Linked DNA regions of Homo sapiens. The protein of the gene in region 2 purifies or fractionates together with the protein of the main gene of each other region. This does not show direct contact. Each region holds a gene or a part of one and is shown on either strand. Other genes may lie near its edges.

Region 1 (7,590 bases), on a different chromosome or scaffold from region 2:
CTGAAGCTGGAATGTGAGAAACTCGCCAGTGAGAAGACAGAGATGCAGCGGCATTATGTCATGGTAAGAAAACCATGTCACAGATTCAAAGTGCCTATTAGTTTGGAATACCAAAAACAAGAATATGTTTAAATTGCTGGGGGCTGCAAGATAGATCACAGTCACCCTGCCAGTGCAGTTGAAGTTGTGGGAATATGTCTATTAGCAACCTGTAATTCTAGGCTGTTATAACTTGCCTTTGACAACTGGCTTTGATTGGAATTTTCAGAAAGTTCAGCCACATGGGGTATAATTTTCTGTGCTTTGTTTTTACAGATCGAAAAAAAATAAAAACAAAACCTTGTTTGTTTTGTCACAAGCAAAAATGTTTTTGTGTTAGTGGCTTTCTTTGTTGTTTTATTGCTCTTGCTCCAAACAATTTTTGCCAGTTTTTCTGTATGCTGTTAACATTGTAAATGTCTTATTATTAAAGACATTATTAAAAAATAATGTTTTATTTCTTTGAAAAGGAGTGATGGATAAGGAAAGACAGCAGACCATTTTTCAAATTTTTTTCTCTTTATGTTACTATTACATTAATATTTGTATGTTTTCAATTTCTGTAGTGTTATATTGGTTTGAGGAATGTTGTAGTCTCCTGTATAACTGATGTGTTCTGCCAGAATTTCTATGCCAGTTATACTACACGTTCAAAAAACCAGATCTGCTTTTACAGAAGTATTATGAAGCATATTTTTATGATTGTCCAAGAAAGCTCCAGAATAACCCACTCATTTATTTTTCTATCTAGCTTTTTTGCTTTGAATGTGTGAATATGAGCAGTACACTAACAAATCAGAAATCAAACTCTAAGTAGCATCACCTTTTCCAACCTTCCTTTCAAAACATCAGCGTTTGTATAAGGCATTCTTTGCTGTTAACTTGCCTGCTGTGCTTAGGAATTAAGAGTCCGTAGGATACCAAATTTTCATCAGACTTTTTTGATGCATCTGCTTGGGATGTATAAAGAAACTGGAGATGTTAAGAATGCTGTGTTTGAATTTAATTTTTCTTAGTTTTGTGTGTTTTCTCTTAGAATTTGTGTCTTAAGGTGGTTAAAGATAGTGATGGGCTCTTGATTTATTGGCATAGGTTATATGAAGATACTGGTTTAGGTGAGGCTTTTATGTTTGTTTCAGATTTACTTGGGGCATTTTGAACAAACTAGGGAGATTGTTTGATGAAAGTCATGCATTTAATTGCTTTTCCTTCTTTGACAGTATTATGAAATGTCCTATGGGTTGAATATAGAAATGCACAAGCAGGTAAGTTATTTCTTTATAACCATTTTAAATGACAGTAATACTGGGACACTATGAAAAGAAAATTGTATGTTTTGCAGTTTTATTCTGCAAGCCGTTGTGGCTACCTGTATTTAAAAGTCTGGGTAGTGAAGAAAATGCTGTTTTTTCATGTGTGGCTCCCCATCTTTCTTTCATATTATCCTAATTTTTATAATTTAAAAATGTTATTTTAAAAAGTCTGAATACATATTAAACTCTGTACACTTTCAAAAGCAGGATGCTAAATTTTAAAATCCTCTTGTTATTCTTCTGAAAGAGTTGCTTTATGTATTTTGGGCATTGCAAACTTGTCTTGTGAAAGAGCTTTTCTTGGAAAATATTAAACAGTAAAATTAAATTGTGTGGCGCCTTCGTTGGCTTGATGTGAAAGAATGGATAGAGGGTGAGCTGGGAGGATGAAAATGAAATCTGTGGAGCTACAAAAGAAATTGATGTAAAATCCTTGTACTGGTCCCCTGAGGCTACTTAGTTGGGTCTTACCAAGAACTATAACCGTTACTTCCAAAATTTGTACAGAGTAAATGAGCCTGATAGGAGGATGTGATAAGGTTCAACATTGGGTCTTGAAATCTAGCAATTAGTTCAGTAGCAAAAAAAAAAAAAAATGATTAGTCAGAAAGCACTGAGAGATACGACTCAAACAGTCTTCTTTTTGTGCAGGAGACTGAATAAAATGGTTTGGCTTAAATTTCCTAGACAGAAGAATAATAGCGGGTATATCTATCTATATATATATATACACACACACAAATATATATACATACATATATATATATAAATATTGTTTGGCGATAGTAATTCCTCTAGGAAGCATTTATTTTTAGTGATCTCCTAGTGGAAGCACTTCAGGTCTCATCAGCCATTTCAGAATAGGTGTGTATGTGTTTGTCTGCTGGGAAAAAGACAAGGGAAAACTTACTGCTTTTCATTTCCTATTTATGGTCAAGGTGGATGTCATTACTTTCTAAGTTGAGAAAATATGAAATGAGCACATACTATTAGGCCTTCACTATTTATGGATTCCTTTTTGGGTATAGTTATTTTCTACATGCTCAGAACATCCCAGATAGTAGATCTTTAAGAGATGGCTGTTAGACAATAAGGCAATCTGATGAATAGTATTGGAAAACAAAAAGTTGGAAAAAAATGAGACGTTGCTTACATTGAGGACTTTTAATTTCAGATACTGTTTTACTTTGTATGCTATTTGGTTATGTCAATATTAGCATTATAGTATAGTTTGAATGGCCTGTTGAAATTAAATTCTTATTTTGGCATCTTTGTCATTTCTGTTTAGATTAGTAATGTAAATATCTTCTGCTTAAACAAAATCTGTTCAATCTTGTGGATGGACTTCTCTTAGTTCTACCTTACAGGAATAAATTACATGAGAGATATTGTTTGTTAATTATCCCATTACATTTCCTTTGAGGTCTGGATCTTGTGTATGTCTCTTTTTTTGTCTGCACCCCACTCCCCAAAATTAATTAGTGTCTTTTTAAAGATTGGACCAGATGATTAATTTAGTCCCTTTATTTCTCCTTCTGTATCTTGTTTACCCTAACCACTTAGTTTCCAGGTCTCCTTGTACCATCTACATTTCTAAGAGGCACATAGCTTGTATTTGGCTGTATGTATTTCTTTTTCGAGGGGGTATGTGAAATCCCTTAATTTTACACATTTTATACTGCTATAATTCTGTCATCTTCTTGTCCAGCTAGCCTCAAATGCCATCCATTTAAAATTGAGAACAGTACATTTTCCCTTTTTTTCGTTTCCTTTTAAATTCAATCATATCAAGAATCCTGAGGGCAGTTTATCACATTATGAAATACAGACAGCCCTGCAAACCACCTACTTATTATATTTTCTTTCTTTCTCCCCCTTAAGCATAGAGGCATATCTGTCTTTATTTGTTTTCCTAGGCAGACAGCCTTAGTTCCTCTTAGCCTCTCTTCCAGATGTACTCGCTGGATACCCTTGTAATGGAAAGCAGCAATAATGCAGGGAAGTTGCCCTGCGGCATAATTGGGCCTAGTTCTCAAGATCGGGTTAGGTTTATTCACTTATTAGATTTGTGTCTCGAAGGGTTCAACAGTAGGAGTCCCGGGAGCCCTTGGAAGTACCCTAGTAATTGGTGGCCCTGATATTTGAAACCTTTGTGTATTTTTTGGTTAACGTTCCTGTTCTTCTTGGCTGCTGCTAGCCACAGAATATTTATTTTTAGAGAAATTTTTCATTGGAACAGAAAATGGTGGTTGTGATGCAGTCATGGCTCTGTGACTTAGCAAACTGATAAAAAGATAAAAGTATGAAGCAAAGACAAACAGGGTGGAGGTCGGTGTTCTCCCTCCTACCCTTTCTATGTGGTGCTCATCATCAGTCCCCCTGTGTTGATTCTGATAGAGAACTATAAAATGAAACCTATGGGGAATTTGTCATTCTGAAATGAAAGCTAATGTAATTAGTACCAATTAAAGTACATTTAGTAAATTGGATTTAATCTTAATTAAGCCTGCATAATGTTGCCAATTTTTAACAATTATGTTTGAGAACATAATTAATTTAAATTTTGGTAACTGAGTAAATAGCATTAGTCTGGTAGAATTAGTGGATTTTTTTTTTTTTTAAAGGGGAACTTGGTGATATGACGTGGAATTGGAACATAAAATATGAATCTAAATTTCTGGTAATCTTTAGGATTGATAGAGCTAAGCAGATGAAGCAAAAAAAAAAAAAAGGATGAAGTATTCTAGGCTATAATGGGAATTAATGCTGTGCCATTGTCTCAAGTTCTAGCATAAAAGTGAAGATGACAAATAGGACATGGTTAGAAATGGCACATGTTTTAGTGTGACGTCTTCAAAATGGAATTTTTAAAAATGAAAGAACATAGGCCCTTATTCCCTAAGGATTTCCCTAAGTGTATGGTTTTTGTTTTTTGTTTTGTATGAGACAGCTGACCCAGGGTTTAGTTGTTAAGTTTTTTTGCTGATTGTTCTTCTTTGTAAATACAGTGTGGCTTCTAAATGGGTTGGTGGCTTCTAAATGGCACAGTGGGGTGATGCATGGAGTTGATAGCATTACTAAATGCTGCTTCTTCCCATCTTTCACCTGTAATGCTGTCATTAAAGAAGTCCTCACTGATGGACTCTGACAGCAGTGGTTACCATTCTAAAAAGTGAGTATTGGATATAGATTAGGAACAGTAGGTATGTGAATTCAACCTATAGGAACTATATGGAGATGAACATACCATCTTTTGAAAAGGGGAGCATGAGAACATCTATGACTTCCTTATAGTTAGTATTCTACAATGTGAAAGCTTCTTCATTTGAATTTTAGTAATCATCAGGAAATTTTAGAAATCTAAAACGCATAGAATCTGAAAGTAAGTACTGCACATTTATGTATGTTTTATGTGTGTATTTTTATATGTGTGTGTATTTGTGTGTGTGTGTGTGTATATATATATGTATATTTAATCAAAGCAAGAAAACTCCTGTTTCACTTAAAGCCATGTAAATTTTATTACGAGACTTGGGCCACAACCATTTGAGTGCTGCTAAAATATTAATTGAATAGAAATGAAAGGGCCTTGCCAACTGATAGGATATCATAATCATAGCCTCTTTGGTCGATGGTAAATGATGATAAATGACATTAGGAACCTTTTAGCAAACTGTAATAACTACAAGGAGGGAAGCAGTATGGATTTGCATTGTATCTGATACCCTCTAGTACCAAGTGGATTGCCAATACTGCTTGTTTAGCATTTTCTAAGGGCAATAAGATATTGATTTCTGACTTACAAGGAACAGCTCTATTTTCACCATTGAAAAGTATTGCAGGTTGTTAAGAAGAAATTGACTTGAAGAGGCCGACTGCTGCCCATCATGGAGCAAATAAAGCAAAACTGCCGAAGCATGGTGGAGCAGCGAGACGGGCCCTCAGCAATTTGTTGCTATTAATTTACCATGCTCGACAGCAAATCAATCGGCATCTACTTCATCTGCTGGAGAAAATGCTGTCCAGGGCAGATAAAAGGCTCGGCATGGTACAGAGAATAGACTGGATTGGCCAAAAGCAGGCTGCAGTTAATGTGTAAATAAGTGAAATCAAGGCCACTGTTGCAGAGGAAGCTGTTGTTAATTAGGTTGGTGTTTTTTAGTGAACTATTTTAGAAAGCAGCTAGGATTTGGAGAGTAAGAAGAGATTTATTGAGATTGAAGTAATACATGACTGGCATGACATTCTAGCCTTGAGTGTACTTGAATCTAGGGTGCAGTAAATTTATTTGGGGACACTGCTTGCTATGAAGTTTGTTGAAAGTTCATTTTAGACCACATTTCCCTTATGATAACTTTTTTTTTCAACCTTGCCAGTTTTTTGCACATCTTCTGTCTTATTGTGTACTCTTAGATTTAGAAGAGTAGATGGAGGAGTAGGTGTTTTAGTATGGAGGCACAAATGTGTCTGTTATATTCTTACCCAGTGCCTTTTTTTTTTTCAGAGATAGGTATAATTGAACTCTTGTATAATAATGAGAGTGAACTATCATGGAAGATGGGGTGTTCTAGCTGAAAGTAACTAATAAATGAAGATTTTGCTGACAGAACTTTATCTTGCTTCAGAAATATTAGGAAATAACAATCTAGAGGGCCTGAATAGTGGGTAGATACTACTAGATTATAAAATCTTAAAGATGACAAGTGAAATTTTGATGTCTGCATAAACTTCAGATACAATTATAAGACTATGTGTGTGGGGGTGGGAAGGGTTCTTGTGTTTTTGGTTTTCATTAAGGTTTAAAGCCACCTTTTCTAATTTAAGATTATTTACACGCTGATAATATTCCACAATTAATGTTAACGGAGTGAAGGGTATTGGTGGTGTTTTTTCCCCTTTACCTCTCATTTGGGCATTTTAAAATAGGAGGCCAACTTCATTTACTCCTGTTTAGTAAATCTAAATGAGTGTAGGTTTTAAATTAGATTTTTTCCCAAAACCCTTCAGAAGGTCTAGTATTAGGGCAGTTGATAAGTAAGTGGAAGCACCTTGGGCAGGACCCAGTGACCTGTCCTTTTACTTATTACAGCACCTGCACGGGAAGCAGATCTGGAGGATGAAATTTAACCTGTTACAGTGTGTGTATGTTTTAGGGTGTGTGTTTTCCGAATACTGTGGGGAGTTCCCTTTTTCCTTCTCCCATGATGGATTCTTTTGTCTTTCTAGAGATACCATAGGAGGATATCTGGATTTTTCACCTAAGGCAGTGATTCTTGAGTGAAATTGGAATTTCCTTTCAATAGAAGTAAACATTTATTATATATCTGGCTTGCGCTTACCACTGGTCTGGGCACACTGCCAAAATTCTTATCGTTAGTTCTCATAATGATCCTAAGACAGGGATTATATCCAATCAAAAGTTGATTAAACAGGGTCAGCTCTGCACAAGGTGATACAGCTAATAGTTGGTGGATTCAGGACTTCAAATAAATTTATGTGGGAGGATATCTCCTGGGAGATGGGTTTGCTATGGGTTAGAGATTCAGGCCCCAGTTCATTCCTGAAATAGAGAGTCCCTGAACTTTAGGCTCATACGCAGAACCTCTTGAGTTGGGGGATTCTCTGCAACTGCCTAGAGTCCATGGATGGCTCAGCCTGCCCTCTGCTTGCAGACTGCTTTCAGTGGGTGAGAGGGTGAGGTTGCTTTCACTCGGAATCTCCCACATGTGGGCTAGGGAAGCTGCTTGCTTATCAAGATGGAATTTGCTTCCTCCCTAGGCAACCTATTTCTCATTTGTTTACAAACTTGTTCTTCTCTTTAACTTTTATCTTTTCCTGTGGCTTATGAGAGTGCCTACAGACAAGGGGCTGTTTGTTAATCACCATCTTGTGGGCTTTTGAAGGGGGAAGCTGGGAGGGGAAAATGTGATGTTTTGTAGCCTCTTTGTAGTTTAGAAAGAGGTTCGTCGATGCAGGAAATCACACAACTCAGTTTTAAATGAAGGCAGATGTTTTGCTTTTACTGTTAAAAGAATTTCTTTGCAGCATTCAAACAAAAGGATAGTTCCTTTTCACTGCCCCTTAATCCCTGCTGGATATTATTTATTTGTATTTATTATTTTGATGGGCAAAGTTCTTTGTATCTAGGTATATATCACTTTGATCTGTGTAGGAATGATGGACCGGACTAATGAGCTACATCTCTAGGTGCTGTTGCAGCACTGGTGAAGGAGACAAT
Region 2 (7,643 bases):
GTCTGGCCGAGCCCAAGAGGGCAGGCTCCCGCACCCCAGCTGCCCATCCTGCCACCCTCCATCCCTGAGGGTTCTGACCTCCTGGACCCAGTTTGACCTAACGCTCAAGCCCCCTGGGGCCTTGGCGCTTTCATTTCAGGCCACAAACTGGGTGGGTCTCCTTGACCCTGAAGTCAATGGCAGCAGTGGGGAAGTTCCTTCTTCAGTCAAGATAAGCAACAACCTCACACAAGTAGACTCATGTCTATGTCATGCTCGTGGGTCCTAAAACAGGTCTTTAAAAGATACTTTCAAACCAAATAGGTAGCAATTAGGCATTATTTTATTATTCCTGAAGCTCATGAACAAGAAAATGGCACAGAGACAGGTCATCTCCCTATTGCTGAGTTACCCTGGAGACAAGCCTCATGCAAACAAACTCCTTCTCCAGGACACACAATGCCCAAGAACAGGCTGGGTCTGAGGACCTGCCTAGCATGGGGGGCAGAAGCACTGCCTGCTGCAGAGACAGCCACGGAGTGCATCCCCACCACCATCACACTGCTCACTCTGCTGAGAAAGGGTGAGGTTTTAAAGGACATTCACCAGCCTCAGATGCAGGGGAAATGTGCTTAGTTTAGCATTTACATATCTTGACACAGTAATGACACATCACTCAACAATACTTCAAGGGTAACTAACTCCAAAATTCTTTATTTAGTAAAATTGTCACATTTGATGTCAATGGAATACACAAACTCAAGTGTGCTACAAACAAGATGTACAGAGCATCACAGCTCTGGGCAGTGCAGCTCAGTGCACCTGCCTCTCATCTCCCCGCTGAAGTGGCAAGTTCAAGCTTTTGTTTAGCCCAGGGCTGCCTGGAACACTAGTGCCCAGCACCATTTCTGCCACCTCTGCCCCCAGAGCCCGCACAGGGCTGGTGAAGCCTGGGTGGGTGAACCTGGGAGAGCGCTGGCAGCTCTACAAAATTCTTCCTCCTGCCCGTAGCTCCCTCCCTCCACCCACTCCAGAGCTGCAGGGTCCCTAAAAGTTTCTTAAGAAACGGGGCTGGGGCCTGACTGGGCTGGTTACCAGGGGCTGCCCTGCAAGCCATCCATCAGAGGAGGGAGGGAAGACCTGGGAGACTTCCAGGGCCCTACCCCACCACATCTGAACCCCTGGGAGGAGGGAGGAGATCCAGGGAGGGCCGGGCCCACCCCCGCAGGACTCTGGCTGGCATTGGTCACCAAGGCCTCCAGACACTCCGGGCAATTTGGGCTGTGGTCAGGCTGCCCAGGGCTGCGGGCACCAAGTCGGGCCCCTCAGCAGGAGCCTGACTCAGTTCAGCCTCAGGGGCCTCCTCCAGGTCGGAGCACAGGTCGTCCCCAGGACCCGGGGGGCTGGGTATTGGGGATCCCGGAGCGCCCCCCGCAGGCCAGCCACTCCGTCCAGGGGCTCTAGGTGGCCCCGCCAGGGCGTCCCCCAGCAGATCCTGGAAGCTGCTGCCCTCACGCAGCGGCATGGACTCGAGCAGATGGTTCAGGAGCTCGGCAGCGACGGTAGCGTCGATGGCCTGGCACGTGGACACGAACGTGTGCACCTCGTGCATGCACTGGATGTAGCCGGCAGCGAAGCGCTCGCTCGCTTCCGCCTGCAGCTGCTCGCGCTCTGGGCCCGAGGGTGGGAGGGAGAGAGCCGCGTCCCGCGCGGTGAGCGGCGACTGCGTGGCCCAGCCCACCCGGCCCGCGGGGACGCGGCTCACCCAGGAGACGCGGGGGCGCACCCTGCTCCGGTGGGAGCCCTCGCCGCCGACAGGACAGGGGCGCCGGGAGGGAAGTCCTCCGTCTGGCAGGGGTTACAGGCGCCCGCGGCCGGCGCCCCCGCCCGCCCCGCCGCCACTCACCGCGCGCCCGGCCCCGCAGCACACCCTGGACCCGCCGCACCGTCAGCTCCAGCACTTCGGCGTTCTCCAGCTTGGCCTGCACCTGCGCGGGCGGGAAGGGCGGTGAGCCGGCAGCGCGCTCCCGGACCCGCCCGCCCGCCCCGCAGCCCCACGGCGCCTGCCCGGCCGCCGCACCTCGGCGCCCGCCAGCAGCAGCCGCAGCTCCTGCAGGCTCTCGTTGATCCGCGCGCGCCGCTTCTTCTCCACCAGGGGCTTCCGGGCCTGCGGGGAGCGGGGCACTGAATCCCAGCCCCGCACGGCCTCCCGCCCGCTTGCTCGCCCATGGCCCCGGCCCGCACCTTGCGGTCCCCTCGCGTCTCCCAGCCGTCCTCATCCTCACGGCCCACACGGTCCCGGCCAGGCGCCGCGGGTGGCGCCATGCCCGCTCCGCCGGGGACGCGGCAGGGGCTAGGAGCAGCGGGGACGGGGAGCGGCGGGGACCGGAGTGCCGGCGCCCTCCGCTGCCCCGCGGCCGCCCAGCAGCAGCCCAGCCGTCCGCGCTCCTCGCGGCTTCCGGCCCGCCGCGGTCCCGCCCCTTTTATAGCCGCTTATTTGCATCTCAATGCGCCGATTGGCCGCGCGGGCCCGGGGCGGCCGACCGCGAGGCGCGCTGCAGCCAATCGGGGCAGCGCGCTTTGTCCGGCCCAGCGGCTCTGGCGGTCGGGCAGCTGGCTGAGCTAGGCGGGGCCCCCAGCCCGGCCTTCCCTAGACCCCCGCGGGGGCGGCACCGGGGCGGCGACCCCGGGTAGCTGCGGCCCTGCCCGCGCTTGTTTCTCTCCGTCTGCTGCTCTAGGACCACTGATCTGCCGCGCGTGCGAGCAGGCGTCCACCCGTCCGTCCGTCCGTCCGTCCACTCATTCATTCACCCATTAATTCATTCATTTCCCTCCTTCGCCGATGGCGCCTCCAGAGTTGAGCGCTGGGGCCACTGGCCCCAGGAGATGCGTCCCTGGTGTGCAGAGCCACAGTCAAGTCCGCGGTCTCTGGACCTAGAGGGGTTTCAGGTCCCGGCTGGGGTGGCTGCCAAGCCCCGGGGAGGCAGGGTCCATTGGGCAGCGGTGGCGGGGCGGCCCCTGAGTTTCTTCCGGACTCGTCCAGACGCCGGGCCGGACCCCCGACGCCGCCCTCCGCCAGCACTGGAGTCCTAGTGGGGCGGGGTCCCGGGTGCTCCCGCCCGCGCCGCTCTCCCCCTGGGCTCTGCGGGTCACCAGCCCCGCCCCCCTCTGAGCTCCCCCATCTCCCTCTAGTCCCCTTTGGCCCCCGGGGCCCCCTCCCTCCCTTCCACTGCCCCCCGCCCGCCTCCCTCCTCCCCTCCTCGTCCTCCGCGCCCCGCCTCCCAGGCCCGCCGAAGCTGCCGTCTGGTCCTGTAACTTGATGCCCGTGACAGTTGGCAGCTGCGGCCGCTTCGGCGGAGAAAAGCGAGAAAAGCGGCGGCCGCGCCAAGAGCGACAGGTGTTGGCCGCGCCTTTGTCTCGCACCCTTTGTCCGGCGGGCAGGCGGCGGGCGCTTGTCCCGGCCAGACGCCCGCGACTCCCCCATCGCGGCGGGCCGCCCATCTGCTGGGTTCCTCTTGGCCGCGGGCGGGGTGCGTGGGCGGTGGGGCCGCGCCCTCGGGCAGCGTCCTGGGGACCCCTGCCCGGCTCCTGCCCCGGCGTCAGTCCAGACGCTGTGTGGAGGAGCCGGAACGGGAGACGCCTTCTCGGACCCCAGCCGGCCGACTACCAGCCTGCCCCGCACAGCACCTGCCTTCCTCAGTCCCCACTACTCACCCGGGCTGGGATCGTCAGGGTCTGTTCTGAGCCCCTCCAGGCTATAAGCGTCCCTGGACAAGGGCACAGTCTGACCTAGGACCCCCTGTCCACCTCCCCGCACCCCCAGCAGAGCCTGGCCTCACAGAAGCGCTGGTAGGTAGGGAAGGTGAGGGGTGGCCCTGGCAGGATGGGCTGGAAGGCCGCGTGGGAGGGGAACATCACGGGACCGCAGCAGCTGAGCGGAGCGGCAGGACTAGGCTGCAGACCGACCGCCCCACTGCCCCTAGAGAGGTCTGACAGGCCTCCCATGGCCCCTTTACTTGCGCCTCTCCACCAGAGGGACCCCTGCAGGCTTCCTGCTGGGTGAGTTTGGTGAGAGGTTTGAAAGCTCCCAAAGTCACCTCACTGACCTCTGTAATTACCTGGGACCCCCTCCCGCTGGCTCCCAACTGTCCCTGCTCTGGCTCTTGGTTGCTCTATGAGCAGGGTCCTGAGACTTCCCCCAGCCCAGCATCACTCACCTGGGTGTGAAACTACCGCTTTACTTCACACACTCCCCACCTGCCCAGTAGTGGGGCTGGCAGGGTGGGGCTGGAGTGGTGGATCCCAAGGAAGTGGATTATTAGCCTGTGACTTTACTCTCCTTCACCACTTAGACATCACCCCAGGGAAGGAGAACCTCCACTCCCCCAAGTGGCTACAATGACATTTCCACTACTTCGAGAAACTGTGATAGGGAAAAATAAACTCACTGATATTTCCTGTACTCCCAAGTTTGCAAACTGATTTACACTCCTCTCATTATCCAAACGAACAAGGCCAAGTAGATGTTTTAGGATGCTCTCATCCTAAAACATCTGCTTTATGTTAGGCAATTTATATTGCAACAGGATGATCAGGGCCCCAAAAGAGGACTTTGGGTAAAGCCTGACTGAACACTTGATTGGATGGGGAACTGGATTTGAGGGGCAAGGAGGACATGATAAAGGCAAATGGTGCAAGCAAAAAAAAAGAAAGAAAAGCAACTAGGAACTCTAGGAAAAACAAAAAGCTTCCCAAGAAATGTAATCTTAGCACATTACTTGGCTCAGGAGACAATTTTCACAGTCACAACAATGTAACAGTGTTCATAGGGTTTTAACATTTAGAATTAATCTATACAGAAGGCAAGGAAGGATTGTTTATGGTTATGGGACATGATATAAAGTTGACCTTGTAAAAACAAAAGGACAGGTGATAGGAGTTATGAGAGAGGAGGCTAAAGGGAGGACTAGGGACCTCAAAAGCCTTGTCTGACAGTGGAGTGGGTGGAGGGTTGAGGAATGCTGTCTAGAGTTGAGGGAGGGAGAAATTAAGCACTGGGATATGCCTCGGTGTGACCAAGGATCCTACAGGGAAAAGAGCTTAAGTAGAGAAGGCTGTACATCAGCAAAATCCTTCTTGGTTGGACTGGAAGTTGCCCAAGGTCCCCTCTGCAAGGTCAGCTTCAATTCCCTTTAGCGGTGCACTGGCCAGCTGGCATGGCCTTTTTGTCCCAGAAGCCTGGCCTATCTTGAGGTCACCAAGCCCTCCCTCCCTCCTTCACAGCAGCCTCCCCTAGCCAACACTTCCTGCCATTTGTCCCTTGGGCCAGTCCTGCCTTCAAAGTTTGCCTGAGTATGGACTTCCTGAGCATTTGAGTCCTTTGATCCCCCTAGAGCCAGGAACAGAGGCCAGCAGAGGCTGGGCAGGGTGGTGGTTGCTGCGGGGATACCAGTTAGCAGTGGGGGTGGCAGGCCATAAATCCCTGGGGGAACAAAGGCAGCTGCGGCCTGTAGACTGTCCAGGCCCCTTGTGGGCAATCTGCCCAGGAGACTCAGAGAATCTCCGTTTGGTTTGGAAATAAATCCCTTGGGGTTATATGGTAAATAAAAATACAATTAAGAGTCTTCCAAAAGCACTCAGGTTCAGTGAAACAACCATATCTGGCCATTTAGAGCAGTTTGCAGAGGCCTCTGTGCTCGCTAGGGAGGACTTTGCCTTTTATCCCATCAGCACTTGGCGTTAGGCAGCCAGGCTAGCAGGCAGAGGAGAGCCCCTCCCTTCTGCTCAGGGAGCTTCTCAGAGGCTGGGCATTGGGTTCAGGATCCATTCAGCTCTCTGCTCCCACCCCCAGGGTCATGGTTTGAAGAGTGGGAGGGATGGGGAGCAACTCTTCGGGCTTCCACAGTTTTGGCCTCACAAGGCTTCATTCATCACTGTGAAAGAAGGGCTGGGGTCAGGGGACTATGCCGCCCTGCCCATATCATTCGCAATGGAGACATGTGACCTTCCTGGTGGAGCCTCCTGACCGCCCCACCTTTAGCCCTACCTAGCCCGATGACCAGAAGACAGGCAGCCAGCCTGGAAAGGCCAGGTAACCCAGGGCAGGGATGCAGGGAAGACAGAGGTGCGTGGAGGCAGAGCTGGGGGCACTCTGGGGCTGAGCCAGACAGCTGCACCCCTCCAACTAAAAGTGAAAAGACTGTGGGGCATGACACGATTAGGTTTGCATTACGTGAGTTCACTCCTGCAGCCTGAAGGAGGGTGTGTGTGTGACACGCACAGGAAGAAAGGGAGCCAGCAAGAAGCAAACGCTATAAGGGAGCTGACCGCCAGGAGGCCTTTGGGATGTAAGATTCTTTAATGCAGAATTCCTGGAGTTCTTTAAAAAAATTTTTTTTAAATAATCTTTGCTCTCTATTCAGGTTTTCCTTTGTGCTATGTGAAAAATACATACAAGTAAAAATAAAAATATACTTGCTTTATTTACCAATTTTCTAAAAGGCAAACAGGTCATAAAAAGACACAAGCAGTCAAACAAATCTATTGCACTGGGTAAAGAAAGTTTGGTTTGCACACAAACAAACCACTTGTCCAGCAAGGCTCAACAAATCATCACAGAAACTCTGAGAGCTTATTTACATATCTCTTCGGGAATATATTAAAAAGAAGGCTCAGTTTAAAATAGAGAAAAACTGTTTAACACCTGTGTAAGCACACACACTAAAGAAAACATGACTTGATGCTTGGCATCACGTAAACAAATTCACAAGATGATCCTATTAAGTCAACTGCTTGGCACGCGCTGAAGCTACAGTTAACAATCAGTGAGCACATATTAAATGATAAAATAATGCTGATGGTAAACATTCATAACAGCAGAGTAAGATTTTGGCAGTTTTGTGTTTCGGTAACATAACTGTAACCTTAGATGAACACCTATCCCTTCATGATCTGACTTTAGAGGCAAGGAGTTTGTAACATCTAATGGCCATAAGAATGCAGACTGCTACCTTATCATAGGCATAGGCAGCTGATGTTACTTTGTAAATTAACGAAAAATTAAAGTGTTCTTGTGTTTATGAAGAATAGGTTTAATAGTCAGGCATAAGATGGTTTTACGATGAAAACCTAGTGGATTACAAAGAGATTTCACCTCCATCAAAAAACAGAAAACCCTGGTCCCAGTTGGGCGTGGTGGCTCACGCCTGTAATCCCAGCACTTTGGGAGGCCGAGGTGGGTGGATCGCTTGAGGTCAGGAGTTCGAGACCAGCCTGGCCAACATGGTGAAACCCTGTCTCTACTAAAAATACAAAAAATTAGCTGGGTGTGGTGGCAGTCGCCTGTGGTCCCAGCTACTCAGGAGGCTGAGGCAGGAGAATCGCTTGAACCTGGGAGGCAGAGGTTGCAGTGAGCCAAGATGGCGCCACTGCACTCCAGCCTGGGCAAAAAGAAACTCCATCTAAAAAAAAAAAAAAAAAAAAAAAAAAAAGAAAACCCTGGTCCCTTTTAAGCCTCATAGTCTTGGTCCAATTTTAAGTCAACTGTTCTTCAGTGATAACTTTGAATTTCCACCAGGGACCAATATTAAATTTTCTGAACCATCTTTGGAATATACAATGCAACATGAGGTTTTGTAAAAAGCCGGGCAGACTGGCCTCACTTT

Evidence for each region. The genes of interacting proteins can lie anywhere in the genome.
Region 1: the proteins of HES6 (region 2) and TLE4 purify together in Homo sapiens (co-immunoprecipitation; 2 studies listed by BioGRID and IntAct, with this or other methods). This does not show direct contact.

The regions. Positions count from the first base shown.
Region 1 is NC_000009.12:79,574,874-79,582,463, forward strand, and holds part of TLE4 (transducin-like enhancer protein 4), read left to right. Parts: coding exon 1-63; intron 64-1,259; coding exon 1,260-1,304; intron 1,305-7,590. UniProt on the Homo sapiens protein: Transcriptional corepressor that binds to a number of transcription factors. Inhibits the transcriptional activation mediated by PAX5, and by CTNNB1 and TCF family members in Wnt signaling.
Region 2 is NC_000002.12:238,237,602-238,245,244, forward strand, and holds HES6 (transcription cofactor HES-6), read right to left. Parts: upstream 2,438-7,643; 5' UTR 2,305-2,437; coding exon 2,224-2,304; intron 2,147-2,223; coding exon 2,060-2,146; intron 1,968-2,059; coding exon 1,886-1,967; intron 1,651-1,885; coding exon 1,226-1,650; 3' UTR 666-1,225; downstream 1-665. UniProt on the Homo sapiens protein: Does not bind DNA itself but suppresses both HES1-mediated N box-dependent transcriptional repression and binding of HES1 to E box sequences.